Linked DNA regions of Homo sapiens: regions 1, 2 and 3 are each linked to region 4. The links come from fine-mapping of genetic effects on gene expression. A gene starts in region 4. Each other region holds a variant in brackets. All regions are shown on one strand. Distances are between the middles of the regions.

Region 1 (7,247 bases), 220 kb before region 4:
TGGGATTACAGGCGTGAGCCACCATGTCTGGCCCTCATTCTGTTTCTTAAATGCTGAGCCCTCGGGGTGCTGCGTACGGCAGCAGCAGATGAAGAAATGTTCACCCACTCACACCACCTGCTCCGTACTCCCCTTCAGGGTTGCACAATCTTGGGAGGGGTGCCAGATGTGTACCCCACATCTACATGGATGTGTTGGCGGTCTGGGGAATGCAGGGTCCTCAAGCCACCTATCACCCTCTCCAGGGCCTGGGCACTAAGGCTGTGGTTAACAGAGCTTGGGGTAAGAAGCCCTGGGAAGAAGGTTGGTGGGGCTTCAGTGACAGAGGGCCAGGAGGCGGCTGGGGAGGGGCTCAGGGTTACCTGTGGATAAGCTTTCTCCACTTCCAACCCCTCACGGCCCTCCACTCCCTGTCTCCTTGTAAAACCTTGGAGGTTATTCATGGTTCAGCCCCTGACTTCCTGTCTTACCGAGTTTCATCTCCAGGACATTTATAAGCTACTCTTGGCTTCGAAGGGTTTGGTGGCTGCAATGCAGGAGAGGGGAGGAGAGGGTGGCCAGAACCAGGTGGGCTGGGTGCCAGGACCCCTGGGGTCTGCTTCCAGCCATGGACTAGGCCTGCTGGCCCTGGGCTTCCCCTTCCACCTCAACTCCATGGCCTTTTTGGTCTCGAAGTCTCTCTCGGAGTATGATTCTTTGCTGGGCCCCAGAACTCCAAGCCGGGGAGCCCCTGGTGTGTATCCAGGTCTAAGGCGAGGGAGGGCAACTGGAGTCAGAGAGAGGACAGCAGTGACCAGCCTGGGAGATGAGGGATGGAGTCCTGGCTCTCGGCCAGAGGGGTGGGGGGAGGGGGAGGGGTTGACTTTGAAGGCTGTGAAGCCTAAGAGGGGCGAGGCAGGGGTGGGGGTTGGGAAGAGGAATTTAGAGCTCTCGGCCTGACTGCAGGTTCTGAGTCCTCCTGAGCGTTGAACCGAGTAAGACAGGCCACATGCCTGTCTGGTCCACTGCGGGGGTGAGGTGCTGCCCCCGGAAGTAGGGCAAATGGAGGTGCCCTTGCTGGGGATCCTGTCTGCTGGCCAGGGGGGACTAACTCTTCAAAAGGGGCTTACAGGCAGGCGCGCACGGTGGCTCGTGCCTGTAATCCCAGCACTTTGGGAGGCCGAGGCAGACGGATCACCTGAGGTCATGAGATCGAGACCATCCTGGCCAACATGGTGAAACCCCATCTCTACTAAAAATACAAAAAATTAGCTGGACATGGTGGCACATGCCTGTAATCCCAGCTACTCGGGAGGCTGAGGCAGGAGATTCACTTGAACCTGGAAGGCGGAGGTTGCAGTGAGCCGAGATCGCGCCATTGCACTCAAGCCTGGGCAACAGAGCGAGACTCCCTCTCAAAAACAAACAAACAAACAAAAAACAGAAGGGGGCTTACAGGCTCCAAAAGTGGTGTGGGGTGTCACTTGGGGCTTTCCACACTGTGTGAAGGTGCCTGGGGCCTGGCTGCAGGCCTCTGAACCCCCCTCCACCTGTGCCCACGTGCACACTCACAGAAGATGTGTACACTCACCAGGGTCCACAGACAGGCACACAGAGTCCCATCTCCTGTGCAGCGCATGGGACTCCTGGGCCTGTGTCCAGTCCCCTTGCTCCTGACGAACATGCTCCTGGTGGCCTTCCAGTCCATGGAGACCATCGACAGGGCTGGACAGACCTGGCCACAGAGGACTCTCTTGGGGTTGATTGAACGCTGCTCTGCCCTCCCCACAGGGCTGGGAGACTTCCATGCCCAAAGGCCTGGCTTAGGGCTATGAAACTGGAGGAGGTGGGGCTGGGGGAGGGCAAGGAGAGCCCTGTTTCTGTGGGACCCTCCTCTTGTCCTGTTCAGATCCACCCTGGAGATAGAGGCACAAATGGGACTACCAGCCTGGAAGAAGGATTGCTACATTGTTTTTTGTTTTGTTTTTTTGGAGACAGTGTCTAGCTCTGTCACCCAGGCTGGAGTGCAATGGTGCAATCTTGGCTTATTGCAACCTCTGCCTCCCAGGTTCAAGCGATTCTCCTGCCTCAGCCTCCCAAGGGGCTGGGATTACATGCACGAGCCACTGTGCCCAGCTAATTTTTGTATTTTTAGTAGAGACGGGGTTTCGCCATGTTGGCCAGGTTGGTCTTGAACTCTCGACCTCAGATGATCACCCGCCTCAGCCTCCCAAAGTACTGGGATTACAGGTGTGAGCCACTGTGCCCGGCCTGATTGCTACATTTTTATAAATTGAACTGGCCAGGCTGGTGGGCAAGAGGCAGTTTGCAGGGCCCAGTTATTCATGGAGGTTGGGGGAGGGAACAGGAAAGAGTAGCAAATCGCCTTCTCTCTGTGCTGATTCCTCCAGGAAGACCCAAGGGAGAGGATTGAGGGTGGCTGGAAGCAGGCTGGGGCCACCCCTCTGCAGGAGAGGATTCTGGCTCCTCTGGCAAACCCTGCAACCCCAGGCAGGCTCCCAGCAGGCAGGGGACTGAAGACAGTGGGGAAGCGTCCTTCCCGATGCTGGGAATCTGGTCTGCCTTGGCAAATCCTGGGAAGCCCCACAACCCTTCTCTGTCACAGTGTCCCTGGGTCACCAGGAACAAGATCCAGGGTTCGGCAAGCCAGGCTTGCTTGCCACCGTGAGGCCAGTGATGCCTTTGTGCTCCAGCCTTGTCTGCAGGGAAGACGGAATTATGAGATAGGTCCTCAGTTTCCCCAGCGCGGGAGCAGCCTCCGAGCACCCCTTCTGTGGCCCCTGCCGCACGTTCTCTGGGTCCTTGTCGTAAAGAACATTCACCAAGCACTTAGGAGCTGGGTACAAAGGGAGGTGGGGGTGAGTGTCAACTTTGTTTAATACAGTAGGGAAGTGAGGATCACAGGCCTGGACTCCTGCTAAGGTCACCCGCTAGGAGGGGGCAGAGCTGGCTGGTTTTTTTTGAGATTGGGTCTTGCTCTGTGGCCCAAGCTGGAGTGCAGTGGTGCAATTATAGTTCACTGCAGCCTTGACCTCCTGGGCTCAAGAGTTCCTCCCACCTCAGCCTCCTGAGTAGCTGGGACCGCGGGTGTGCACCACCATGCCTGGCCAATTAAAATAGTTTTTTTTCTTTAGAGATGAGATCTCCCTATGTTGCCCAAGCAGGTGTCAAACTCCTGGGCTCAAGTAATCCTTCTACCTCAGCTTCCCAAAGTGCTGGAATTACAAGCGTGAGCCACCACGCCCGGCCACAGTGCTGGCCTTGAATCAGCCTTGAAGGTCCCTACAGCCTTTGCTGTTACCGTTGCCCCATCCTAGCAAGGGGCTCCTGCCCCGCCTCGGTCCCCACCAGGGTGAACTGGGAACAGCGGGCCCTCGGGGAGGGTAGGATGGGGGACTGGCCTCTCTGAGGGGCCCCTCCCTGGGAGGGAACCACATCCTTTATGAGCTCGGGCAAATCAGGCATCTGAAGTGGAAAAACCCCACACAAATCAAGGACAGCTGGGCCCGCCCTCTGGCGGCAGCCCCCTCCGCTTGCTCCCCTCGCAGGAATCCTGGCAGGAGGCACGGAGCGGGGCAGAGCCAGTCTCAGGGATGAAGGGTGTGGTTCTCAGGGAGGGAGTTCCTGGAGCTCCTCCTGGCTGTGTGAAATCTACCCTAGCTGTCTTCGGCGGAGGGCGGGGCCGCTAATCACTTTCCAGAGTGGGGCCGCGGTCCTGCCCTCGCTTGTGAGGGCCCAGGCTGGGGCTGCCCACCCCGGGGAGGGGACAGACTGGGAAAGAGGTGGAGAGGGGTGTCAGGGAGGGACACACACAGACACACACACACAGTCACTTAGTTGCTCAACAAACATGAGCTGTCATCCTGGTCAGGCGTGGAGCCACAAAAGGGATCAAGACTGACCCCGTCTCTGCCCTTGTAGAGATCATGGGTAGGTGGAGACAGGGATCAAAATCACCCACAAAGAAATAGTTACAGACTGTGAAGGGGGCACAAATGTAGCCAGGACGCTGGTTGAGGATCTGACGCCGGGCAGGGCATTCCTCCTAGCACGGCCTTGCTCCCCAGGACTCCCCACCTCTTCCCCTCTCCATCCCCTCCTGCCCTGGCCCTCCTTGTCACCTCTCCAAGGGACAACGTTTACTGGGCCCAGCAGCTGGGGCAGCACAGCCCATCTCCCCTCCCAGATCCTCTCCTCCCAGCCACTACATCAGGCCGACCATCCACATGTTCGTCAGCTGGAGGGTGGACAGACCATCTGCCTGGCTGTCTGGCTTATACAGGGGTCAAGATGAGCTCGGGCAGTGTGGACCCTCAAAACCCCTGGGGCCTTGGGAGATCCGGCTAGGCAGAAGGAACTTGTTGATGTCTGTTTCTTGGCGGAGGAGGACATTCAGACAGAGAGCAGGAGGCGAGGGACCCTCTCAGGGTGCAGGGACAGCCC[A/C]CACCCTTTGTCCCTACAGTCTGGTTGCTCAGGTGTCCTGGGGCAGAGGGAAGGAAGTTTGTGTGTGAGGAGCATGGAGAAGAAGTTCCTGAAATTATCAGATTTAACCTTCATAAGGCACTCAACACAGAGTTACCATATGATTGAGCAATTTCACTCCTAGGTATATTCCCTAGAGACATGAAACGTATGTCCACTCAAAACCGTATACCTGAATGTTCATGGCAGCGTTATTCATAAGAACCCCGCAGTGGAAACAACCTAGATGTCCATCAACGAATGAGGGAATCAACAAAAGGTGGTCCATCCATACGATGGAGTATTACTCAGTCAGGAAGAGGAAGGAGGTACTGGCACATGCCACAGTGTTGATGAACCTGGAGAACATGCTGAGTAAGAGACCCAGACACAAAAGGACGAACATTGTATGATTCTCTTTTTTTTTTTTCATTTTAGAGATGGTGTCTCACTCTGTCTCCCAGGCTGGAGTGGAATGGTGCAATTTCAGCTTCACTGCAACCTCTGCCTCCCGGGTTCAAGGGTTTCTTGTGCCTCAGCCTCCCGAGTAGCTGGGACTACAGGCGTGCACCACCACACCTGGCTAATTTATTATTATTATTATTTGAGATGGAGTTTTGCTGTTGTTGCCCAGGCTGGAGTGCAATCGCGCGATCTCGGCTCACCACAACCTCTGCCTCCCGGGTTCAAGCCATTCTCCTTCCTCAGCCTCCCAAGTAGCTGAGATTACAGGCATGCACCACCACACCCAGCTAATTTTTTGTATTTTTAGTAGAGACAGGGTTTCTTCATGTTGGTCAGGCTGGTCTCGAACTCTCAACCTCAGGTGATCTGCCCACCTCGGCCTCCCAAAGTGCTGGGATTACAAGTGTAAGCCATGGCGCCTGGCCCACACCTGGCTAATTTATGTATTTTTGGTAGAGACAGGGTTTCACCATGTTGGCCAGGCTGGTCTCGAACTCCTGACCTCAAGTGATCCACCTGCCTTGGCCTCCCAAAATGCTGGGATTACAGGCATGAGCCACTGTGACTGGCCATATTTCTTTCTTTCTTTCTTTCTGTTTTAGAGATGGGCTCTCACTCTGTCGCCCAGGCTGGAATGCAGTGGTATGATCATGGCTCACTGCAGCCTCGTACTCCTGGGCTCAAGCGATCCTCCCACCTCAGCCTCCTGAGTAAGCTAGGACTATAGGTGCATACCATCACGCTTGGCAAATTTTGAAATTTTTTGTAGAGACTGGTACTCCCTATGTTGCCCAGGCTGGTTTTGAATTCCCCGCCTCAAGTGAACCTCCTGCCTCAGACTTCCAAAGTGCTGGGACTACTGGTGTGCGCCACTGTGCCTGGCTAAATTTAAAATATTTTGTACAGACGGGGTTCTCGCTTTGTTGCCCAGGTTGGTCTTGAACTCCTGGCTTCAAGCAATGATTCTCTTTTTGTGAAATGTCCAGAATAGGCAAACCCATAGAGACAGAAAGTAGATTCGTGGTTGCCAGGGGCTGTGGGAAGGGGAGAAGAGGGCGTCATTGCTAATGGACACAGGATTTCTTTTTGGGGTGATAGAAATGTTCTAAAATTGATTGTGATTGCACGACTATGAATATACTGAAAACCATTGATTTGCATGCGACAAATGGCTGGATTGAGTGGTGTGTGAATTACATCACAATAAAGCTGTTACTCTTCAGAGACTCATGCGAGTCATGACTGAGGTCTTCATTTTACAAAGGAGGGTCTGGTGGCTCAGAGTTGGTGGGAGCCTGAGGAGGAGGCGGGGCTGGACCAGCCTCAGGCCAGACTCTAAGCCCCGCCCCTGTTCCCGCAGGGCCTTAAGCTCCACCCCATCCTCTACTGCCCGGGCTCTCTGCTGCTGAGCCTTCACCCACACGGTTCCTTGGCCTGGAATGCTGTTCTCCTCGTCTTCACCTGGCCGTCACCTCCAGAAAGCCTTCCCGACCTCTCCTCCCACGTATACCCTTCCACTGAGCGACATTAATGGAATGTCCACTGCGTGCCAGGCTCTGTTAGGTGCTGGGGATCCACTGGTGAATGAACAGCCCCAGTGCTGCCATCCTGGGCGCCCCGAGGTGTGTAGCCACCGTCAGCCGAGTGCCTGATGGAGGGAGGGGTCAGCTTCCAGGAGAACCCTCCGAGCCGACTCCTGGTCCCTGCATCTCTCTCTCCCTGTCCCCAGTCCATTCCACATCCTGCTGTTCTGCGTTCTGGTCAATTCCTCCTGGAAAGTCCTTCTGCCCTCAGCGGGGACTAAGGATAAAGCATCCAGCAGAGAGACGGCAGCGGAAAGGCCAGGAGATGGAAATGACCATGCTGGGCTGGGCAGGGGGCTGGAGGAGCCATCACGGAACCAGTGCTGGAATTTCAAGTCCTGAGTAGGGACTGCTGAGACCGTGGGGATGGCTGAGACTGTGGGGACGGCTGAGACCGTGGGGATGGCTGAGACCGTGGGGACTGCTGAACCTGTGGGGACTCCTGAGACCGTGGGAACAGCTGAGACCGTGGGGACTCAGACCGTGGGGACGGCTGAGACCGTGGGGACTCCTGAGACCGTGGGGATGGCTGAGACCGTGGGGGCTCCTGAGACCGTGGGGACTGCTGAGACCGTGGGGACTCCTGAGACCGTGGGGATGGCTGAGACCGTGGGGGCTCCTGAGACCGTGGGGACTGCTGAGACCGTGGGGACGGCTGAGACCGTGGGGACTCCTGAGACCCTGGGGACGGCTGAGACCATGGGGACGGCTGAGACCGTGGGGACTCCTGAGACCCTG
Region 2 (7,247 bases), 160 kb after region 4:
ATCAGGAGTTCGAGACCAGCTGGACCAACATGGTGAAACCCCGTCTCTACTAAAAACACAAAAATTAGTGGGGCGTGGCCAGGCGCGGTGGCTCACGCCTATAATCCTAGCACTTTGGGAGGCCAAGGTGGGCGGATCACGAGGTCAGGAGATCGAGACCATCCTGGCGAACATAGTGAAACCCCATCTCTACTAAAAATACAAAAAAAATTAGCCGGGCATGGTGGCGGGCGCCTGTAGTCCCAGCTGCTCAGGAGGCTGAGGCAGGAGAATGGCGTGAACCCGGGAGGTGGAGCTTGCAGTGAGCCGAGATTGTGCCACGGCACTCCAGCCTGGGTGACAGAGTGAGACTTCGTCTCAAAAAAAAAAAAAAAAATTAGTGGGGCGTGGTGGCAGGTGCCTGCAATCCCACCTACACGGGAGGCTGAGGCAGGAGAATCGCTTGAACCCAGGAGGCAGAGGTTGCAGTGAGCCGAGATTGCGCCACTGCACTCCAGCATGGGTGACAGAGCAAGACTCCATCTCAAAAAAAAAAAAAAAAGAAATGTAGTGATCCATTGGGTTATCTTACAGAAGGAGTTATTTTCAGAATCAAAAACTATTGCTTTTGCTTTCTCTATGCCGCTAAAATATCTTTATTCTGACCCAGCATTTCCAATTACATTTTCAAAATCTTCCATTTCCTTCTTTAAGCCACGGCATTTCCGATTCCTGCACGCGGTAGAGATTGGCCATTTCAGTGAGACAGGAAAACCACTTCTCTGTTTTATGGCCCTCGGGTCAGCAGAGGGCCCCGTGGGAGCTTTCCTAGCCTGGGTACCTCGTTGAGAGTCTCATGTTTTCCCTGCAGTCATGCAGGAGGGGAGGAGGCGGAGTCAGTCCTAGGTCCCACATCCCTGTCTCATTCGTTCTTACAGTCAGTTGGGTGGGGGCAGAAATTACCCTTTTCGAAGTTGGGCATGCAGAGGCTCACGTTAGTTTAGTCATCTGCCTGACCCCACGTCGATGGTGATGGAGCCAAGACACAGCTCCAGTTCCAGGCTCCACGCCCTGTGCTCTTCCACTGAAGCCTCGAGGCCCCTCCCTTCCCGCCCCTACCCGCCAGGGGAAGTGACTTGCCCAGGGCCACGCCATGCTATTAATAGCGCTCAGAGAGCCCGGCCTGACTCGCTCAGGGCACTTTCCAGCACAGGAATACCTGCCCCCACAGTCTGTCAGCCTCCTTCTGGAAATTGTATTTCTTAAGAAAGATAAGGGCCCAGGATCATTATTCCTAGAATGATTCACTCTGGACTTCCTGCCACTTCCTCTGTGGGAACTGCAGGGCAACCTGCAGAACGCTGCACCGGCCTCGAGGAGGAGAAGGAGGGTGCGGGCAGCTCCGTGCTGGTCATGCTCAGCCATGGGCCGACATGCTCGCTTTCTCTGTGTCCCTGTCTCTGCGGGCACCGGGCTGACCTGTCCCAGTGAGCAGCAGGAGACCTGAGCCTGCCCCAGATGCCCACAGTCTTCAAACCTCTCAGTCAGCCACAGAAGACCAGCAGAGCCCCCTGGGGTCGCTGGGGGTCATGGCTGGACACTGCTGTGGCTCAAGCACTTGTCTAGAACACCGCAGGACCCTTCCATAGGTCGTTGACGACAACTCCATCACTGTCACCCTCTATGACGCCAGGTCTTCTCAAGACCTGTCCCAGGTTGCTGGGTCTAGAGCGTTGAGAGGAGGCTCTGAGCACCAATGGCCCCTCGCCTGCAAGGCCGGGCCTCCTCCCCAACTCACATGGCGGCTTGGGGAAGCCAGGGCCTCGTGATGGTCCTGCCGTCTGCATCAGTGTCCGAGCCAGGCACACAGCATGTGCTCGTGCAGGCACCTCACTGTCGGCTCAGGCAGTGTGGAACGTGCTAGCGTGTTCTCACTCTGTCTTGTCCCGCTCACGGAAAGGGCCTGCGCTGACCCCAGGCTGACCCCAGGCAGGTCCTAGGAAGCTGCGTTTATAACAGAGCACATGCCTTGGCCTTCCTAGGCCTGACCTGTTCTAGGCCTCTTAGCTGGGAAGGTCAGGGCCAGGCATGGGCTCTTCTGCCTCTGCCCAGGGGCTGCTCCCCACCAGCTGCCTCAGCATTGAGGAAGGGGCAGGACCCAGGCTGCCCCATGTGGACTGCACAAGGGCCAGTCAGCAATCAGACCCCACAGACTCAGGAAAGCAAAGTGCCTCAGCCTTTAAAGTGGAAAAGGGTGTGACAGACACGCCAGGTGGTCGCAGCCTCCCTGCTCCTTGGCCTGGGTGTGTTTCTGTCTTTCATCATTCTTGCCTACAGCAAGAGGGAGGGAGGATGCCCCATGGGGCTTCTCAGTGGCCTGTGGCCATGTTGAGAGGTATGGCCTGCAGCTTCCCCCCAGGCCACCCAAGGCCTCAGGACCCTCCTGTGGCACCAGAAGGCCACAGGGGGCAAGGGCGCGGTGGCCACACCCGCCCAGGTACTTACTCGCCAGTTGGAATGCAGCGGCCATGGCCTCCTCCCAGCACGGGGCGTCGGGTGACAGCAGGGGCAGGCCCACCAGCCCCAGGAGGAAGGTGAGCTGGCCTGCGGTGAGCGCGGCCGTGGCCACCAGGTTGCAGGCGCGCATCATGTCGAACTGCACTGTGGGCCAAGAGCAGAGAGGCAGTGGTGAGTGCAGGTGGGCTCCAGAGGCCACGCCAGCCGTCACGCCACTTTCGTGGTCTCTGTTTGCCTCGGAAAGGGCGGTCGGCACAGGCTGTGCCTCCATTGGGCAGTGGCTTCGGGAAGCATCACGCCCTCCCCCTCACCTGCCTGCAAGCCCTGGGTCCCATGTCTTCCTGATGGGAAGGGTTCATCCCAGCCGCCGGGCCTGGCTGCAGTGGTCGTATCCCTGCAGGGACGGGCCCTACTCTGCTATTTCTGTCTTCCTGAGACAGCTGTTCCTCTCTGCCTGACTTGACCCTTGAAGGCGCTGGCGTGGGGGTGGAGGTGGGAAGGGGAAGCCCACCAGCAACACCGGCTTCCCTGTCACTGAATTCACAGCATCCAAGACGAGGGCGCTGCCTGACCGGAGACTCCGCGGGGGGCCAGCTCCTCAGGCGTGCTGTCCTGCGTGCTCAGCTGCCCGACCCCCAAGCGGCTCATGGTGGTGTTCCCTCCTCCCAGCAGCTGAGGGACTTGGGACCGAGGAGAAGCAGCTCATCTGGGCCCCTCATAACCAGCAAGGGGCTGAGCAGGGGTCAGACATGGGTCTGAACCAGTGCCCCCCACCTGCCCC[C/T]CTCACCTCCTGGGGCCCCGTCACCCCATCTGCCACAAATCTTTCACTCAGTGGCTTAAGTCAGGGCCTGCTTCCCCACTCACAGCAGGCCTGTGCCCAGCCTTCTCTGTCCCCCACCTACACCTGGTTGCAGGAGCCAGGTGGGCAGGGCACATGGATGCGTGGTCAGGGGCAGATGGAGCCTTCTGTGAGTGAACTTCAGAGGGAGGTGCGTTTGTTGCCCTCAGGGACCAGGGCTCGTCACGTTTCTGTAGCAGAGAAATGTTCTCCCGCAAATAAAACCTTACACAGGGGCCCAAATGAGGTGGTGGTGAAGCAGTGTGTTCCCAGGCCCCTGCACGCTGCAGAGCAGACAATGTGTGTGCTGACAGACACTCAGCCTGGAGTCAGGGACTGCATGTGAAGCAACAGCCCCACAGAGTCCCTAGCCTGTCATCGCCATGCCTTGTTTTCTATTGAACAATATTTGGGAAATTCGATTCCCAAAACTAAGTCGTTATAAACAGTTGCACCTTTTTAAATGACTTGCCTTGAAATTTCAGGGCACTCTTCAGGTAACTGATGCAGGAATCTAAGAGGGAAGCAGCCTCACCACTCAGGAGCGGGTCCCCGCGCCCGCATCCATCACAGACACCAGAATCCAGGCTCAGGAGCAGGTCCCTGTGCCCGCATTCATCACAGACACCAGAATCCAGGGAGCAGCAGAATGTCCCAAGAGCCCTGAAGGTGCTGGCCTCTAGGGTGACTGCTGTGTGTCCTGGGTGGAGGCCGAGAGGGGATGGGGAGATCCTCAAGCTGCCTCCTCAGAGCACGCCTGTGGGAAGCCAGCCCAGCAGGGGAAGCTGTCGAGGTTCACGCGTGCACGGGGCAGGCACGCTGGCATCAAGGCTCAGGGGTGGTGGGGGATGCGGGCTGCTTTACTTCGTGAGTGTTTACGTGGTTAGAAGTATCCGTTGGAACCACTATTGCCAGTATTAGCAATTCCACACGGTTCAACCTCAACATTTATTGAAATGCAATCTGGATTCACAGAATAACCTCAAAGCTCTGGAGCCGAGGCATCTGCTTCCCACCTGGCCCTTGGGCTGGGTGCTGCTCCAGCGCTCACATCTGCCCCGGCCCCAGGCTGAGGTGGTGTGTGGGATCGTCTCAGTCTAGGCTTTCGGCGTCCCAGCATCCCTGGAGGCACACTGCTCCTCGCCACTGAGGGTCCCCCCGCCGTCCTACCCACTGTATTTCAAGCTGCTTCCCTCCACAGCGTCCCCTCCTGTCACTCGGGGCGGAGGGAGCTCTCCTTCCTGGATGCCAGGCTTTTCCACTGTGCCCGCTCCGGCCTGGGTGGCGCCCCCAGCCCTGAGACCTCCAGGGTGTGAGGGCAGTGCGCAGAGAGTGGAGGCATGAAGGACCCTGGGGCACGGGGTCCCCGGGCTGCTGAGGAGTCTGAGCAGCCAGCACATGGCACCATGAGCCTTCCGCTGGCAAGGGGGAGAGCGGAGCACGCTGCCTGCCCGCAGACAGGCAGGCACCACTGACAGGGCCATGGGAAGCGGCAGCAGCTGCCCCTCGCTCATTTTTCTCGCAGCAAAACAGACACCCCAGTGAGCGTCACTGCCACGTAACTGAGAGCTCACGTTCCTTCATCTCCAAAGTAACTGCAGAGTTAGAAACCATAGCGCTCCCGCGAGGTTCTCTCTAAAGAAGGAACAGAAGACGCGGGGGCTGAGAGCCAGCCTGGTGGCCAAGGGGTTCCCGTACGGACAGCGGGAAAGCCTGGCAGCAGGTGAGGACCTGGCTCAGCATGGGCATAGGTGGCCGTGGGGCCAGAGTGCTTGGAGGAAGGGGCAGAGCCCAGGGCACTGGAAATGCCAGAGGACAGCAGAGATGTGCTTGACCTCAGCCTGGCACCGTGCAACTTGCTGAGGCCTAAGGCGTGGGGCGGCATTTGCACCATGTGGCTTGCTGAGGCCCAAGGCATGGGACGTCACTGGCACTGTGCGGCTTGGTGAGGCCCAAGGTGTGGGGTGGCTTGGCACCGTGTGGCTTGGTGAGTCCTGAGGCTTGGGTCGGCGTTGGCACCGTGTGGCTTGGTGAGGCCCAAGGCGTGGGGCGGCGTGGCACTGTGCAGCTTGGTGAGGCCTGAGGCGTGGGGCCGTCTGGCACTCTGCAGCTTGCTGAGGCCTGAGGTGGGGGGCCATCTGGCACTGTGCAGCTTGCTGAGGCCTGAGGCGTGGGGCCATCTGGCACTGTGCAGCTTGCTGAGGCCTGAGGTGGGGGGCCGCGTGGCACCGTGCAGCTTGGTGAGGCCTGAGGTAGGGGGCGCTTTTGCCCTGGGTTTCTCACCTGCCCTAGGGCCTGTGCAGATGGGACCAGCAGGAGCCAGGGTTGAGGCAGACACTGCCCTGGCTGACTGGCAGGACCTTCCTGACTGCTCCAACGGACTCCACAGCCAGCCCCAAGCAGTGACCACGTACAGCCTGCAGGGACCGGAGTGAGGCCTGCATTTTGAGGGCGTCCTGTCCACACATTAGGGACGTGTGTGAGCTCTGGAGGCCCCTTCCAGCAGGATCTGTGGCACGGTGCTGTGCCATCTTTGCTCTTAACTGTCTTGGCAATGACTTCCATTCAGAAGCCTCTGCTTCTCTAAACATTGCAAAATGAGGGAGGCATTAAAACATCACGCAGAAGGTCATGTTCGAGAGAGGAGCAGCTCAGATTCCCTGCCCAGGGCTCTGCGCTCTGCCCTGGAGGGGAGGAAAGACCAGAATGAAGGGGGAGGAGGGATGCAGAGCTGCCCTGGGAGGAGCATAGCCCAGAATGGCATGACCGAGGTGGGCTTGAGCACCAGGCACAGCTGCACGTGTAGTTGTGGTGAGGGTGAGTGACCAAGGTTCCTGGGAGCTGGGAATAAGCAGACGCACCCCTGACCTGTCCTCTCGCCCTCAGCCCTGGCCTCTCAGCCTTCCTTCCTCGCAGCTCCAGGCACACAGCCCTGTGCCACACACCATGGCAGGGGCTCTGTGCAGCAGCCGTGCCCCACAAGCCACTCTGCAGCCTCCAAGTCCCCAGGGTGCATGGCTCACCACAAGGGCACCCACAGACCCACCGCCCTGCCAGGAAGGAGGCACTCCTGCCCGAGCCTTCCTGTCTGAGCCACGCTCCCGCCTGCCCCAAGAAAGCTGTTTGGAGCTGGCGTTCACTGCTTGGGTGTTATACGGGTTCCTGGGGTGCTGCCTGTGTGCGTGGCTCTGCGTGGCTCTGCGTGGCTGTGCGTGGTAGCAGCTGACTTTTAAAGGTGTCGGTGAGAACGTGGTTCAGCTGGGTCCTGGCCGAGCAGGGGGTGAAGCCCGGGAGCTCTGTCCTCCACCTGTATTCAGGCAGGGTCTTACGTGCCCGTTTGATGTGTGGCGGGGCATGCGTGGTGACGGAGCCACGTGGAGCCACCGGAGAGAGGGGTGGGGCTCCCCCTCAGCTAGCGCCAGGCTCTGGCTCGCCTGCCTCGAGATTCAATCACACGGTCATCTGTTCCCAAGCCACCTTGTTTCAGATGCCTGACAGAACGCACGAAATACAGAGAGATGACGTAAATATCCAAAACGAGACGAAGTGAGGAGGAGAAATTGAGACCCCCTCTGGACATGGCATGTGAGGTGGACCTCAGGCCTCCCTGGTCCCCCGAGCTCCTCACAGGGAAAGAGCACCCCTGATCCGTAATGAAAGTCCCACTCACCACAGGCCACAGGACACCCCTGGCAGGGGCACGGGAGGGCCTGAACCTGGATGAAGTCGAGACCGGGCTCCTCTGCCCTGGGTCCAGCCCTCTTTGCCCTGACCAGAGTTCAGGATGTCCGGGGCGCGTCCCCTGTCCCTCAGGCAGGCTCCTGGTGATGTTTGCGAGTGACGAGCGCTGGATGATTTTGACTCCATGTGCCCCATGGGGCAGGGCCTCAGGGCACAGAGCCGTCCGGAGACA
Region 3 (7,247 bases), 34 kb before region 4:
GGTCCCCCGCAGGCACGAGCTTGCCCCCGATCTGTGCACGTACCGTGCCGTCAGCCAGGGGGAACACGTTCAGGGAGGTGGGGCGCTCCTTCCTGCTGAAATGGGGGGCGAGAGGAGAGGAAGCGATGGTTAGAGGGTGGCCGTGAAGATTTCCCAAGCCCTCCCAGGGCAAGCAGACCTCGAGTGATGGGGCCGCTCCATGCCAGCCAGCAGCCCAGCTCGAGCAGCTACTCAGTTATGATCCTACGTGGCGCTTCCCCTCCCATGATGCTGCAGTTTCTCATTTTTATTAAGTTCAATTTTATTTTATTTTATTTTATTTTATTTTTTTTGAGGCGGAGTCTCGCTCTGTCACCCAGGCTGGAGTGCAGTGGCACGAACTTGGCTCACTGCAAGTTCCACCTCCCAGGTTCACGCCATTCTCCTGCCTCAGCCTCCCACGCCTGGCTAATTTTTTTTTGTATTTTTAGTAGAGACGGGGTTTCACCGTGTTAGCCAGGATGGTCTCGATCTCCTGACCTGATGATCCGCCTGCCTCGGCCTCCCACAGTGCTGGGATTACAGGCGTGAGCCACCGCGCCCGGCCTAAGTTCAATTTTAAACAGACACAAGCCGGGTGTGCTTTAGACACCCCACAGCAGAGCCAGCCACGGGACTTGGCATCACGGTCAGCGCTGCACGGCCACCATGAGCAATGCCTTTTAGGACCATTGTCTTATGTGTGCCCAGCCCTGCCTCCCTGTGGTGTTACTGCCAGCCCTGCCTGTTCCCCTGGCGCCAGCAGAGGGAATCCAGCCTTCCTGCCCCTGTGCCTTGTTCCTTGGCCCCTCCTGCCCATCCTCATTACTCCTGTTCATGAGGCTGCCTCACTGCAAAATATCTGAACACGACACATCCAGAGTAAGGACTGACCCCGTCTCATCTGCTGCAGCCGGAGCCTGAGCCTGAGGGGCGTCTTCTCCCTCCCCACGTGTCCTCTCTGCTGTCAGGGAGCCCCGAACCTGAAGACGGACCCTGGGACAGCCTGGCCTCGGACAGCCTGGCAAGACAGTGGGAGCGCCTGGGAGCTGGAGCTGTCAGGACAGTGCTCAGTGCCCCCTGCTGTGGGCTCAGTCCCTAGGGATGACCTCCTGTGGGCCATAAGCAAGAGCAGGGATGGAGCCCAAGGTCTCCCTTTACGTCCTCCTCCGCGGGAGGTTTCCAGTCAACAGCCCAGAGGTCCCAGAGGCCAGGCTGGCTCCTCACCTCCTCAGGTCTGGGGGGCAGGCCACGTGGTCAGATGCTGGAGCCCACACTGCTCAGGGCTATTCAGGACAAGAATTAAGAGTCTGCTTGCACCACAGCCTCAGCTGCTTACATCTCAGCCCTGAGACTGTAGGAGGGAAGGGAGCTTCCTCAGGGGTTCAAGGAACCTGCTCTGGCCATGCCTGGAGGATGCAGACGGCGACAGGGGAACGCAGCAGCCGCCGCTGACCAGGAGCTCCGCTACCTGGGTGGGGAGCTATGAAGAATGACCCTGGGAAGGGGTCTCTTTGTGGGGTGCATACAGCTCTGGGGACTGGCCGCCTGCTCTGTTATGTTCAGGACAACACCGTATCCTGTAGCACGAGGGAACCAGGGCCGGCTGGGACTGGGCTGTGCCATCTTGGCTGCTGGTCCATGGCACTCAAGCTGTTGTGACAACAGCCATGAGGTTCCCTGGCCACCGTGAAGGCAGCCAGCCACCAGGCCCAGGGAGCATGACCCCAGTGGGAGGCTGGGCTTCAACCGCCCTGTCTGCACCAGGGGCCTCCTGGCCCCACTTCCACTGCGCTCCCAACGCTGGTGCGGGGAGCGCCTCTGCTGAGGCCCAGTTCTGACGCCATCAGACACGTCTCAGTCCCTAGACCGAAGCCGATGCGGTCCTGGCTGTCACCAGATGCTACAGGGGACAGCAGGGTCAGAGGGGCCTCTGGTCTCCCAGGAGGCCAAGGGAATGCATGTACGGCTCTCCCACCCACACAGCTCCATGCTGGGCCACGGCTCAGCCAGGCCACCACCTCCGACAGAAATCACCCAGGATCAGGAGCTGCCTTCACTCTTTCCTTTGCTCCTCCCCACCGGCCCCCAGGCCCTGGCCTCAGGCTCGTGAGCGTTTGCCGACTGACCCCGTCCTCCCGATTTGTCCTCGCAGCTCCCTCAGGGGATGCAGATGCTCCCTAGTTCAGAGACCACCACCCCCAGGGGTCACGCCACCCTCGGGGGTCACGCTGCCCTTGGGGGTCATGGGTGTGTCACCGGCTCTGACACAGGCTGGTGAGTGAGGGAGCTGGGCTATGAGTCCAGGTCCGACTGATGCAGAGAGGGGCCCTTCCTTGGCCCGTCGCCCCCCGAGTCAGCACCAGCCCCACCTGATGCACACCCCTCCTTAGCAGGAGTCGGCGCCGTGCCTTCGTCTGTGACCAAGGCAGTGCTTGTGGAGCGAGGGCAGAGTGTGGGCGACCTGGACGGCGCTGCCCAGCTGCATGGCTGTGCAGGGGACCCAGTGGTCGCCACCTTCTCAGTGTCAGTCTCGTGAATGTGGCCAGATGGCCCTTCCGACCTCTCACATCTGCCACAGGAAACACCTCACAGCAGACCAAGCAGCCGCCCTGGGCTGGTAACTGATGCCCTAATGTGCCTGCTGGTCGTCCCCCAGCACCACAGTGGACACACCTCTTGGGTTTTACCTTTTCCTCCACGACTGACGAGGACTGCAGGGCAGCGACAGACACGGCAGCACACGGCAGCGACAGCACAGAGGGCAAGACAAGGAGACAGGCGTTAGAAGGCGTGGGCAGCAGAATGCGCACACGCCACATGGATGGTCAGCATGTGGTGATGGCACAGAGGGCGAGACAAGGAGACAGGTGTTAGAGGGCGTGGGCCACAGCGTGCGCACACGCTCATATGGACGGTCACACAGATGCTCACACGGACGGTCAGCATGTGACGATAAGGAGACAGGTGTTAGAGGGTGTGGGCAGCAGCGTGTGCACACGCTCACACGGACGGTCACACGCTTACACGGACGGTCACACAGACGGTTGCACGCTCACACGGAGGCTCACAAGGACGCCTACACGGTTACGGATGATCACACGGATGCTCA[C/T]ACGGTTATGCGGACACTCACACGGACGGTCACACACTCACACGAACGGTCACACAGATGCTCACACGGACGGTCACACGGAAGCTCACACGGACGGTCACACACTCACACGAACGGTCACACAGATGCTCACACGGACGGTCACACGGAAGCTCACACGGACAGTCACACGCTCACACGGACGGTCACAGGGATGCTCACACGGACGGTCACACGGATGCTCACGCTCACACGGACAGTCACACGGATGCTCACACGGACGGTCACACGGATGCTCACACGCTCACACGGATGGTCACACGGATGCTCACACGGACGGTCACACGCTCACACGGACGGTCACACGGATGCTCACACGGACAGTCACACGGAAGCTCACACGGACGGTCACAGGGATGCTCACACGGACGGTCACACGGATGCTCACAGGCTCACACGGTCACACGGATGCTCACACGGACGGTCACACGGATGCTCACACGCTCACACGGATGGTCACACGGATGCTCACATGGACGGTGACACGCTCACATGGACGGTCACACACGGACGGTCACACACACACGGTCACACAGATGCTCACACGGACGGTCACACGGAAGCTCACACGGACGGTCACTCACACGAACGGTCACACAGATGCTCACACGGACGGTCACACGGAAGCTCACACGGACGGTCACACGGAAGCTCACACGGACGGTCACACACGGACGGTCACACACACACGAACGGTCACACAGATGCTCACACGGATGGTCACACGGAAGCTCACACGGACGGTCACACACTCACACGAACGGTCACACATGCTCACACGGACGGTCACACGGAAGCTCACACGGACGGTCACACGGAGGCTCACACGGACGGTCACAGGGATGCTCACATGGACGGTCACACGGATGCTCACACGGACGGTCACACGGATGCTCACACGGATGCTCACATGGATGGTCACACTCTCACACGGATGGTCACACACTCACACGGACGGTCACAGGCTCACATGGATGCTCACACGGACGGTCACACAGATGCTCACATGGATGGTCACACTCTCACGGACGGTCACACGCTCACACGGACGCTCACACGGACGGTCACACGGATGCTCACATGGATGGTCACACTCACACGGATGGTCACACACACGGACGGTCACACGCTCACACGGATGCTCACACAGACGGTCACACAGATGCTCACATGGATGGTCACACTCACACGGACGCTCACACGCTCACACGGACGCTCACACGGACGCTCACACAGATGCTCACATGGATGGTCACACACACGGATGCTCACATGCTCACACGGACGGTCACACAGATGCTCACATGGGTGGTCACACTCTCACACGGACGCTCACACACATGGATGCTACACGGATGGTCACACAGATGCTCACATGGATGGTCACACTCACACGGACGCTCACACGCTCACACGGACGCTCACACGGACGGTCACACAGATGCTCACATGGGTGGTCACACTCACACGGACGCTCACACGCTCACACGGACGCTCACACGGACGGTCACAGATGCTCACATGGGTGGTCACACTCACACGGATGCTCACACGCTCACATGGATGCTACACGGACGGTCACACATGCTCACATGGATGGTCACACTCACACGGACGCTCACACGCTCACACCGATGCTCACACGGACGGTCACACAGATGCTCACATGGATGGTCACACTCACACGGATGCTCACACGCTCACACGGATGCTCACACGGACAGTCACACAGATGCTCACATGGATGGTCACACACACGGACGGTCACACGCTCACACGGATGCTCACACGGACGGTCACACATGCTCACATGGATGGTCACTCTCTCACACGGTCACACGCTCACACGGACGCTCACACGGTCACACGGATGCTCACATGGATGGTCACACTCACACGGATGGTCACACACACGGACGGTCACACGCTCACGGATGCTCACACGGACGGTCACACAGATGCTCACATGGATGGTCACACTCACACGGACGGTCACACGCTCACACGGATGCTCAAATGGATGGTCACACTCTCACACGGATGGTCACACACACGGACGGTCACACGCTCACGGACGCTCACACGGACGGTCACACAGATGCTCACATGGATGGTCACACACACGGACAGTCACGCTCACACGGACGGTCACATGGATGCTCACATGGATGGTCACACTCTCACACGGATGGTCACACACTCACACGGACGGTCACACGCTCACACGGATGCTCACACGGACGGTCACACAGATGCTCACATGGATGGTCACACGGACGGTCACACGCTCACACGGACGCTCACACGGACAGTCACACGGATGCTCACATGGATGGTCACACACACGGACGGTCACACGCTCACACGGATGCTCACACGGACGGTCACACAGATGCTCACATGGATGGTCACACACACGGACAGTCACGCTCACACGGACGCTCACACGGACGGTCACATGGATGCTCACATGGATGGTCACTCACACGGATGGTCACACACACGGATGGTCACGCTCACACGGATGCTCACACGGACGGTCACACAGATGCTCACATGGATGGTCACACACGGACGGTCACACGCTCACACGGACGCTCACACGGACAGTCACACGGATGCTCACATGGATGGTCACACACACGGACGGTCACACGCTCACACGGATGCTCACGGACGGTCACACAGATGCTCACATGGATGGTCACACTCTCACACGAATGGTCACACACTCACACGGACGGTCACACGCTCACACGGACGCTCACACGGACGGTCACACAGATGCTCACATGGGTGGTCACACTCACACGGACGCTCACACACTCACACGGACGCTCACACGGACGGTCACACAGATGCTCACATGGATGGTCACACTCTCACACGGACGGTCACACACTCACGGACGGTCACGCTCACACGGATGCTCACACGGACGGTCACACAGATGCTCACATGGATGGTCACACTCACACGGACGCTCACACGCTCACACGGACGCTCACACGGTCACACGGATGCTTACATGGATGGTCACACTCTCACGGATGGTCACACGCTCACACGGACGGTCACACGCTCACACGGATGCTCACACGGACGGTCACGGATGGTCACATGCTCACACGGACGGTCACACAGATGCTCACATGGATGGTCACACTCACACGGACGGTCACACGCTCACACGGACGCTCACACGGACGGTCACACGGATGCTCACATGGATGGTCACACTCTCACACGGACGGTCACACGCTCACACGGATGCTCACACGGACGGTCACACGGACGGTCACACGCTCACATGGACGGTCACGGATGCTCACATGGATGGTCACTCACACAGACGGTCACACACGGACGGTCACACGCTCACGGATGCTCACATGGACGGTCACACACGGACGGTCACACGCTCACACGGACGCTCACACGGACGGTCACACGCTCACACGGACGGTCACACACGGATGGTCACACAGACGGTCACACGGATGCTCACATGGATGGTCACACGCTCACACGGACGGTCACACGCTCACACGGACGCTCACACGGTCGGTCACACGGATGCTCACACGGACGGTCACACGCTCACACGGACGGTCACACGCTCACACGGACGCTCACACGGACGGTCACACGGATGCTCACATGGATGGTCACACGCTCACACGGACGGTCACACACGGACAGTCACACGCTCACACGGATGCTCACACGGACGGTCACACACGGACGGTCACACGCTCACACGGACGCTCACGGTCACACGGATGCTCACATGGATGGTCACACGCTCACACGGACAGTCACACGCTCACACGGATGCTTACACGGACGGTCACACACGGACGGTCACGCTCACACGGATGCTCACACGGACGGTCACACACGGACGGTCACACGCTCACACGGATGCTCACACGGTCACACGCTCACACGGACGCTCACGGTCACACGGATGCTCACATGGATGGTCACACGCTCACACGGACAGTCACACGCTCACACGGATGCTTACACGGACGCTCACACGGATGGTCACACATGCTCACACGGACGGTCACAC
Region 4 (7,247 bases):
TTGGATCTTGAGATGAAACTGACTTGCAAAGTCCGCGGCCACTGCAGCCCAGCGAGGGGAAGAGGATGGACCCAGGGTGTGTGGCTCCTGAGGGCCGGGCTGACACTCAGGCTGGGGTCTGCAGACTCCACGGCTTGGGTCAGTCTCTCGGGAGACCCCACCCTCTCTAGCTCCTGTCACTCTCATACACTCAGCTGCCTGTTATCAGAGCACATTGGGAGTCACTGTGGTAATGACCGGCAAGAAGATGGGAACAGGGATGTCTGCTCTGCTCAGGTTTTTATAAAACCCTGCGGATTCTGTCTGCTCAGAAGCTGCAGTGGCTCAGGTTACCCATCTCTGACTAAGCCTTCTTGAGCAGAGTGGCTGGGGACGGAGCTTCTGCTGACAGCTCACCCAGGAGCTCCTCTGCAACAAGACACGCCTGCAGCGTGTGACGTCCCGCTCCCCTCTTATCAGACACACGTCTATGTGATCACAAGTCCCTGCCTAGAAAAGACGCCGACCCACAGGGCACAATGGTCTACAAAGTTGGAAATGAAGGTCTGCTTGATTCAGTAGAGGAGTAGGCATGCCAAATGTTGACAGCATCGAGCCCTCTTCCTTAGTTGTAAAGCCCTGAGGTCTTTCCAAGGGCGCCCCGTTAGCGTTTAATCATAGCCTCCATGCTGGCCAAGCATTGGCTGGCTTCGGGGCTCGGCTCCCGAAGCTCTCGGTGCAGCTTCTCTAAAGCGCTGGGGCAATGGTGGGTCTCAGACTAAAGGTGATAGCTTTGCAAACCACACGCACACCCGCCAGCTTGGTTCAGCAGGAGCCCTGGGGGAGGGCAGATGCACTCACAGCAGCTTGCATGTGAACCGCACAGAGCTGGGCAGCGCCTATCCTGTGCACAGCTCATTTTTAAGCGGCAAGGTTATAATTCCTAGCCTTAACGTTGTCCATCTTGATTTTCTCCTTTCAGTTCCTTCTCGTCCACTATACTGACCACACAGGTACAAGGTGAAAAAAAGAAACCCACCTGAAATCCAGGTCAGGCCACTGAGTGTGGGAGAGCAGTGGAGGGCGGTGCCCAGCACAGGGGGCAGCCACAGCTCCACAGCTGAGCGAGGGCAGCCCTGGCACTCCAGGCTTCTGGGGAGCAGCCCTCCGGTGCCTGCAGCTGCCTGACATGGAAGCAAGTGCCCAGGCCGGTGTCGGGTTCACTCTGCATCCTGGCTGGGCACTTCTGGGGTGGGTGACCTTGGTTCAGCCCCTCCACTTCTCAGGACAAGTTTCCTTCCCAGTAAAATGCCTATAGTCACCCTGAGCTCCAAAATCCATGAACCTTTGCGTTCCCTTAGGTTGAGAGCTTTAACTCAGCTTTGCTGGAACCGGGGCATTCCAATCAATGCATAACCACCTCGCGACAGACACGAAGCCCAAACGCAATAGAAACCACAGGAAAGGAGGAATGATACAACATACTGTTATGATTTTTATAAACACGCTTTAAACCAAACTAGGCCATAAATCACCTTGGTTTCAGAAAAAGCCAAAATACTGACACAATCTTTTATTTTCCTATTAAAGTCAAGAATGTGTTAAGCCGAATTAATTGAAAAGGAATTGAAGCTCATTTCCTAAGACACTTCTATTCATAAGTCAAACAGCATTACCTAACTCCTAGAATGAGAGAATTTCTGGGCTTGGAGATCGCCTAGTGCAATTCACTCCTTTGATGGAAAATCGAACCCCAGGCAGGCGACAGGCCAAGGTCACAGAGGCAAAGCAGGGATGGGAACCAGCCTCCCTGAACCTGTTTCTGACAAAGGGCGAGGTTCTGGGCCCACACACAGGCAGGCCGAGCTCAGTATCTGACGGTGAATGAATGAAGCTAAGTGGTGCTCCCCACAGGGCCCGGCTCTTGTAACTGCTTCACAGACAAGCGATTTCCAGGTTATGGAGACATCCTAGCACAGAATTAAACGCTTCAAACTCAGACTGTTAACTCCTCAGAAGCCAGAGTGGAGTTTCTCAGCCCTGGCTACATCAGCTAACAATCTCGCCAAGCAAGGAACCAAGGGGGCAAAGACATCACCTCCAGAAACTCGAGTGTTCCTTCTGCTGACAGAGGAGCAGCCCGCCTGCGGCCTTGTTCTGTGTTTACATCAACCACCCAATTCACCCGTGTCACAGACCTTCAAAATACGGGATTAGGGACAAGGGAAAGGTCTCCAACATCATCCACAGACGGCTGCAGCCCCCTAAGAACACCAAAAGATTCCTTTTCTAGATGGGTTTAGAATGGCAGCCAACAGAGGTAGCACTTGGGGTCGGGAAACGGTTTTGACTGAACACACGCACGAAAGCAAAGGCAATTGTCATGCAGAGGTGGGTGGGGAGGGGAGAGTGAGGCCTGGCTTTGAAGCTGAGCTCCCCGGGGATGACGCCAGGCACATCGGGTTTGGGGCTGAAGATTCAGGGCTGGGGGCACGGAGGAGGGGGCCAGGGCCCAGGCCTGGGCGGAAAAGGGGGTCCCCGGGAGTCGGGGTGGGGTCCCGGGGCAGGCGGGGGAGTGCTCTAGGGAGGTGTCTCACGGCGGGCAGAGGGGGTGGGGAAGTCCCGGGGCGGGGGATATGGGGTCCAGGCGGGTCTCGGGGCGGGGTCTGGGGGTCCAGGGGTCCCGCGGTCCGGGGTGCCGGAGCGGGGTCTGGGGTCGGGACGGGTGTTGGGTCCGGGGCCCGGGGCTGGCTGGGGGTCCGGGACGGGGATGCGGGCGGGTCCCGCGGCCCACGCACCTCCTCCGCCTGCCTGCGCAGCGCCTTCTCACGCTCGTACTGGGTGAGCAGCTGCTCGTTGTCCTCGCGCAGCAGCTCCAGCTCCACCTCGTGCTCCTGGTTCTCGCTGAGCACCGAGTCTAGGTTCTCCAGCACGTTCACCACCAGCGGCATGAGCTCCTTGACCACCTCCTCGTCGTAGCAGTGGATGAGGCGCTCGAACTCGCGGTAGATGGAGCCCGCCAGGCCCGACACCCGCTCCGACATCACCGAGCCGGAGCAGTAGTCGTCCTGGTACACCACCACGCCGCCGCCCTCGTCCATCTGGATCTCCATCATCGCGGCCACCGCCGCCGCCAGCGCGGCTCGCTATCCGGCCGGCGCGCCCGGCCCTCCCCAGCTGCCTCAGGTTCCGCAGGCCGCAGCCCGTCGCCTCCCGCAGCTGCTGTCGCCTCAGGGCTCCGCCGCCGCCGCTGCCGAGGCTGCGCCCGTCACTCACTCACCGGAAGTCCCGCCCTCCAGCCGGAGGGGGCGGTGCCCGCGCGTCCCGCCGCAGCCGCGCCGCCAGGGGGCGCAGGGGCCGTGACGTCAGAGGAAGCCGGGCTTCGGGCCGGAAGCGCGGGTGAGCCGGGCAGAGGGAGCTCCCGGCCAGGCCGGTGGGATCCGCGGGGCGGCAGTGGTCGCTTCCCCCAGCGCGCTGTAGCTTGATCATGTCCCCGCAACCGTGGGCTTCCGGTGACCTCGATCCCGTCTCCAGGCTCTGCACACTTCGGCGGACTTAGGTGAAGGCTCAGCGCCTGCGCCTCAATCCCGGCCGCCCTGATGAGCCTCCGTTCCCTACAGCACCGCGCCCCGCTCAGTGCCTCCCCTCTCCTGATGCCTTCCCCGCTCAGCTGGCTCCTCCCGGGATTCTGTGAATGCACCCTCAACGCCCATCTCATCCTGAAACCCAGCAGCGTGGCCTCCTTCCTTTCGCCCACTTCTCCCTACTGCACTGACTGCTTCAGATTTTCTTTTTTTTTTTTTTTTTTGAGATGGAGTCTTGCTCTGTCGCCCAGGCTGGAGTGCGGTGGCGCGATCCTGGCTCACTGCAAGCTCCGCCTTCTGGGTTCAAGTGATTCTTCTCCCTCAGCCTCCGGAGTAGCTGGGATTACAGACCAGCTAATTTTGTATTTTTAGTAGAGACGGGGTTTCGCCATGTTGGCCAGGCTGGTCTCAAATTTCTGATCTCAAGTGATCCGCCCGCCTCGACCTCCCAGAGTGCTGGGATGACAGGCGTGAGCCACCGCGCCAGTCCAGATTTTCGGTTACTTTTCAGCTACGTGCAATCTGTTTAACCCATCCACTGGGTTATTAATTGCACCGATTTTTTTTTTTTTGAGACGGTGTTTCGCTCTTGTCGCCCAGGCTGGAGTGTGATGGCGCGATCTCGGCTCACTGCAACCTTCGCCTCCTGGGTCCAAGCGATTCTCCTGCCTCAGCCTCCTGAGTAGCTGGGACTACAGACACGCGCTATTAACGCCCGGCTCATTTTTTTGTATTTTTAGTAGAGACGGGGTTTCACCATGTTGGCCAGGCTGGTCTTGAACTGCTGACCTCAAGTGATCCACCCGCCTCCCTCGGCGTCCCAAAGTGCTGGGATTACAGGCGTGAGCCACTGCACCCTGCCAATGATTCTGTTTTTGTCCTATTTGATTTCTTATATTCTAGCAGTTTTAATAGGCTCTTATACTTCCAACCACATATTTATCTTTAAGCGTTGGGTGTGCCTCATAACTACAGTATCTGCAGCCCTTGCAGGTCTGATTCTGCATGTCATCCTGGTTGACTCTTGGCCCAGGGTCCCCTTTCCCCCATTCTGAGCCAGTGTCCCCAGGACTTTTGTCTCTGGAAGTACTTGAGGCCTGAACTTAAAATGTGTTGCTCCGTAAGATTTGCACTTTATTTTGCTGGGCAGGGGACACCATGAACCCAAGACTTTGAAACTCAATTTGGGAGCCACACATGTATTGTGAATCCTGATGAAACCACATCAGTGACTATTTAATGCTAATAGAAATGGCCACTTACCGTCTTTCACCTACTGCAATGCTCATCAGTTCAGATCCTCTCATCCTAATCTGATTGCACCGAAACAGTAACTCCCGTAGCTGACACCCTACTGATTTTTTTTGTTGTTCAGTTTTTAGAGGCAGGGTCTCACCCTGTTGCTCAGGCTGGAGGCACTGGCATGATCAGGGCTCACTTGAACTCTTAGGCTCAAGTGATCCCACCTCAGCCTCCTAAGTAGTTGGGTCTACAGGTGTAAGCCACCACTGCTTGGCCAATTTTAAAAACATTTTTGTAGAGACAGAGGTCTCACTGTTACTCTGGCTGGTCTTGAACTCCTGGCCTCAAGCGATCCTCCCCCTTGGCCTCCCAAAGTGCTTAGATGACAGGTGTGAGCCACCATGCCAGGCTCTATTGTGTTTTTCACATTTTCCACTTGCAACATAATTTGCCGTATACATGTTCAACCATCCCACTAAGAGGTTTCATTCAGCCTCAGATTCCAATTTCCTGGGATCCCAAGTGACTTAATTTTGCCAAATCTCCATTTCTTTTCTTTTCTTTTTTTTTTTTTCCTGAGATGGAGTCTCAGTCTGTGGCCCAGGCTGGAGTGCAGTGGCACCATCTCAGCTCACTGTTACTTCCGCCCCCCGTGTTCAAGCCATTCTCCTGCCTCAGCCTCCCGAGTAGCTGGGACTACAGGCATGTGCTACCACGCCTGGCTAATTTTTGTAATTTTTAGTAGAGATGGGGGTTTCACCATACTGGTCAGGCCGGTCTCAAACTCCTGACCTCAGGTGATCCACCCACCTCAGCCTCCCAGTGTTGGGATTACAGGCATGAGCCACCGTGCCTGGCCCCAAATCTCTGTTTCTAAGCCTGCAAAACAGCCTAAAATATCCAGCCTATTAGGAATGTCAGCTAATCCATGAAAGGAGCATGGCGCCATCTCCAGCAAATAACGTGCGATAAAGGTTACGGAGAGTTGTGAGGTTCCATAAAGTGAAAATGATAAGGCTGGGCAAACAGATGTAATCTATAATTCTTCCTGGTGAACAAGTTAGAGCAAGCTTGCATTTTGGGGGATGTTTAAAGCTTCTGCTTTATACCTTTGAGAAACTTGAGCCCTTTGAATTCCTGAGGTAGCACACTACAGTAGGAACAATGCTACCACAGGGAGAGGCCAACAGACTTGGCCATCAACTCAATTGATTAATTATCACTACCATGATTGCACAGATTTGTTACTTTAAGTTGGTTAAAATGAAATTTTAACAAGGTGCTGGATAATTCTTGACACTTATGGAATCATACAACTGGTCTTCTCCTGAAAGTTGGTGCTGAATTAGAACTGCTTACAGCTGGGCATAGTGGCTTACACCAGTAATCCCAGCACTTTGGGAGGCCAAGGAGGGAGGATCGCTTGAATCCAGAAGCTTGAGACCAGCCCGGGCAACATAGTGAAACCCAGACTCTACCAAAAAAAAAAAAAAATCAGCCAGGCGTGGTGGTGCATGCCTGCAGTCCCAGCTACTTGGGAGGCTGAGGTGGGAGGATCACTTGAGCCTGGGAGGTTGAGGCTGCAGTGAGCAGATTGTGCCACTGCACTCCAGCCTGGGTGACAGAATGGCTCTGTCTAAAAAAAAAGAAGAACGAACTTCTAGTAACAGAGGAGTTGACTTCCTTTCAGATTCAGAAATACTATTTGGGATGCAACTTTTTCTCACTAAAATACCTTAAAATGTAAGATGGGCATTAAAATATAAAATGTAAGTTTCTAAAATTCAACTTTAATTTCTAAGTATCTGCCCTGATGCCTGCTAAGAAGCCACACAGTTCCCTGTGATGTTCCTCTCATCTTCATGAGCTGAGTTTGAGAGAGCATCTTTAGATAGCACTTTGTAGCCACACATTACACAGGAGTATTTCAGTGATGATCTTCAAGATGGTCAGGATTATGAGTGCAGAAGAAATTAAGCAGCCAGCACGGGAGGAGGCATCTACACACTCACAGGGTGTGACCTACCAGGTACACCACAAAGATCATATGGCAAAGTTACCTGACATCAAAAGAGCCTGTGTATTCCTGGACAAGGCACGGGGCTCGAGGTGGCAACCCTTCGGGGTCTGTTATTCACACCCTCACCCTGTACCAGGTGGCACCCGCGTCCTTCTAGACTTGGCCACTGCCAGGCCTCTGGAGACGGAGGAGCTGTGACTCCCAGAGGTTCCCATGCTTGCTGGTGGCCTTGGCAGCTGCTAGAAATAGGAAACTTAGCGTGTCATTTCCTAGCCTGGTTCTTGGAACTCGCTCTATACCCTGTGGATGAACAAGTGAAGACGGTGTTTCAGTTAATGCATGTTGGTTTTCTTTCTCAAGCGTTGACTTTCATCTCATCTGGCCCCGATCTAGCAGGCAGAATGGTGTGGAGCCTCCTAGAG

Which allele goes with the higher level. Positions count from the first base shown, and alleles are read on the strand shown. Sizes are in standard deviations (SD) of each study's normalised expression. Not every link is listed here.
For the expression in monocytes of the gene that starts at base 3,240 in region 4, A is the low allele of the variant in region 1 and C is the other (moderate effect, 0.66 SD a copy in BLUEPRINT).

What was found. PIP is the estimated chance that this variant, and not a neighbour inherited with it, causes the effect.
Region 1: its variant is the best candidate, but not a certain one, in a credible set for the expression of MAPK8IP3 in monocytes (BLUEPRINT, PIP 0.74).
Region 2: its variant is the best candidate, but not a certain one, in a credible set for the expression of MAPK8IP3 in whole blood (INTERVAL, PIP 0.62).
Region 3: its variant is the best candidate, but not a certain one, in a credible set for the expression of MAPK8IP3 in cerebellum (GTEx, PIP 0.89).

Annotation. Positions count from the first base shown.
Region 1 is chr16:1,920,091-1,927,337 of GRCh38, reverse strand. It overlaps a transcript of HS3ST6 not described here. Among named protein-coding and RNA genes, the nearest start is that of HS3ST6, 5.3 kb to the right of the region's middle. RefSeq lists enhancers at 6,136-6,430, 6,579-7,142, 7,143-7,247. The variant A/C (reference allele first, on the strand shown) is at 4,444.
Region 2 is chr16:1,537,314-1,544,560 of GRCh38, reverse strand. The region is part of intron 19 of IFT140 (intraflagellar transport 140); the gene reads left to right. TMEM204 (transmembrane protein 204) reads right to left here. Exons shown (of 3, transcript NM_024600.6): 2 at 2,485-2,640. Among named protein-coding and RNA genes, the nearest start is that of TMEM204, 7.3 kb to the right of the region's middle. RefSeq lists an enhancer at 1,438-2,140. The variant C/T (reference allele first, on the strand shown) is at 3,278.
Region 3 is chr16:1,736,180-1,743,426 of GRCh38, reverse strand. MAPK8IP3 (mitogen-activated protein kinase 8 interacting protein 3) reads right to left here. Exons shown (of 32, transcript NM_001318852.2): 5 at 1-95. Among named protein-coding and RNA genes, the nearest start is that of MIR3177, 4.8 kb to the right of the region's middle. RefSeq lists enhancers at 2,993-3,570, 3,571-4,149. The variant C/T (reference allele first, on the strand shown) is at 3,131.
Region 4 is chr16:1,702,188-1,709,434 of GRCh38, reverse strand. It overlaps MAPK8IP3 (mitogen-activated protein kinase 8 interacting protein 3), which reads right to left and starts at 3,240. Exons shown (of 32, transcript NM_001318852.2): 1 at 2,778-3,240. The coding sequence starts at 3,095. It also overlaps a transcript of JPT2 not described here. RefSeq lists silencers at 2,697-2,746, 2,767-2,876, 3,147-3,486, 4,393-4,687 and an enhancer at 3,045-3,909.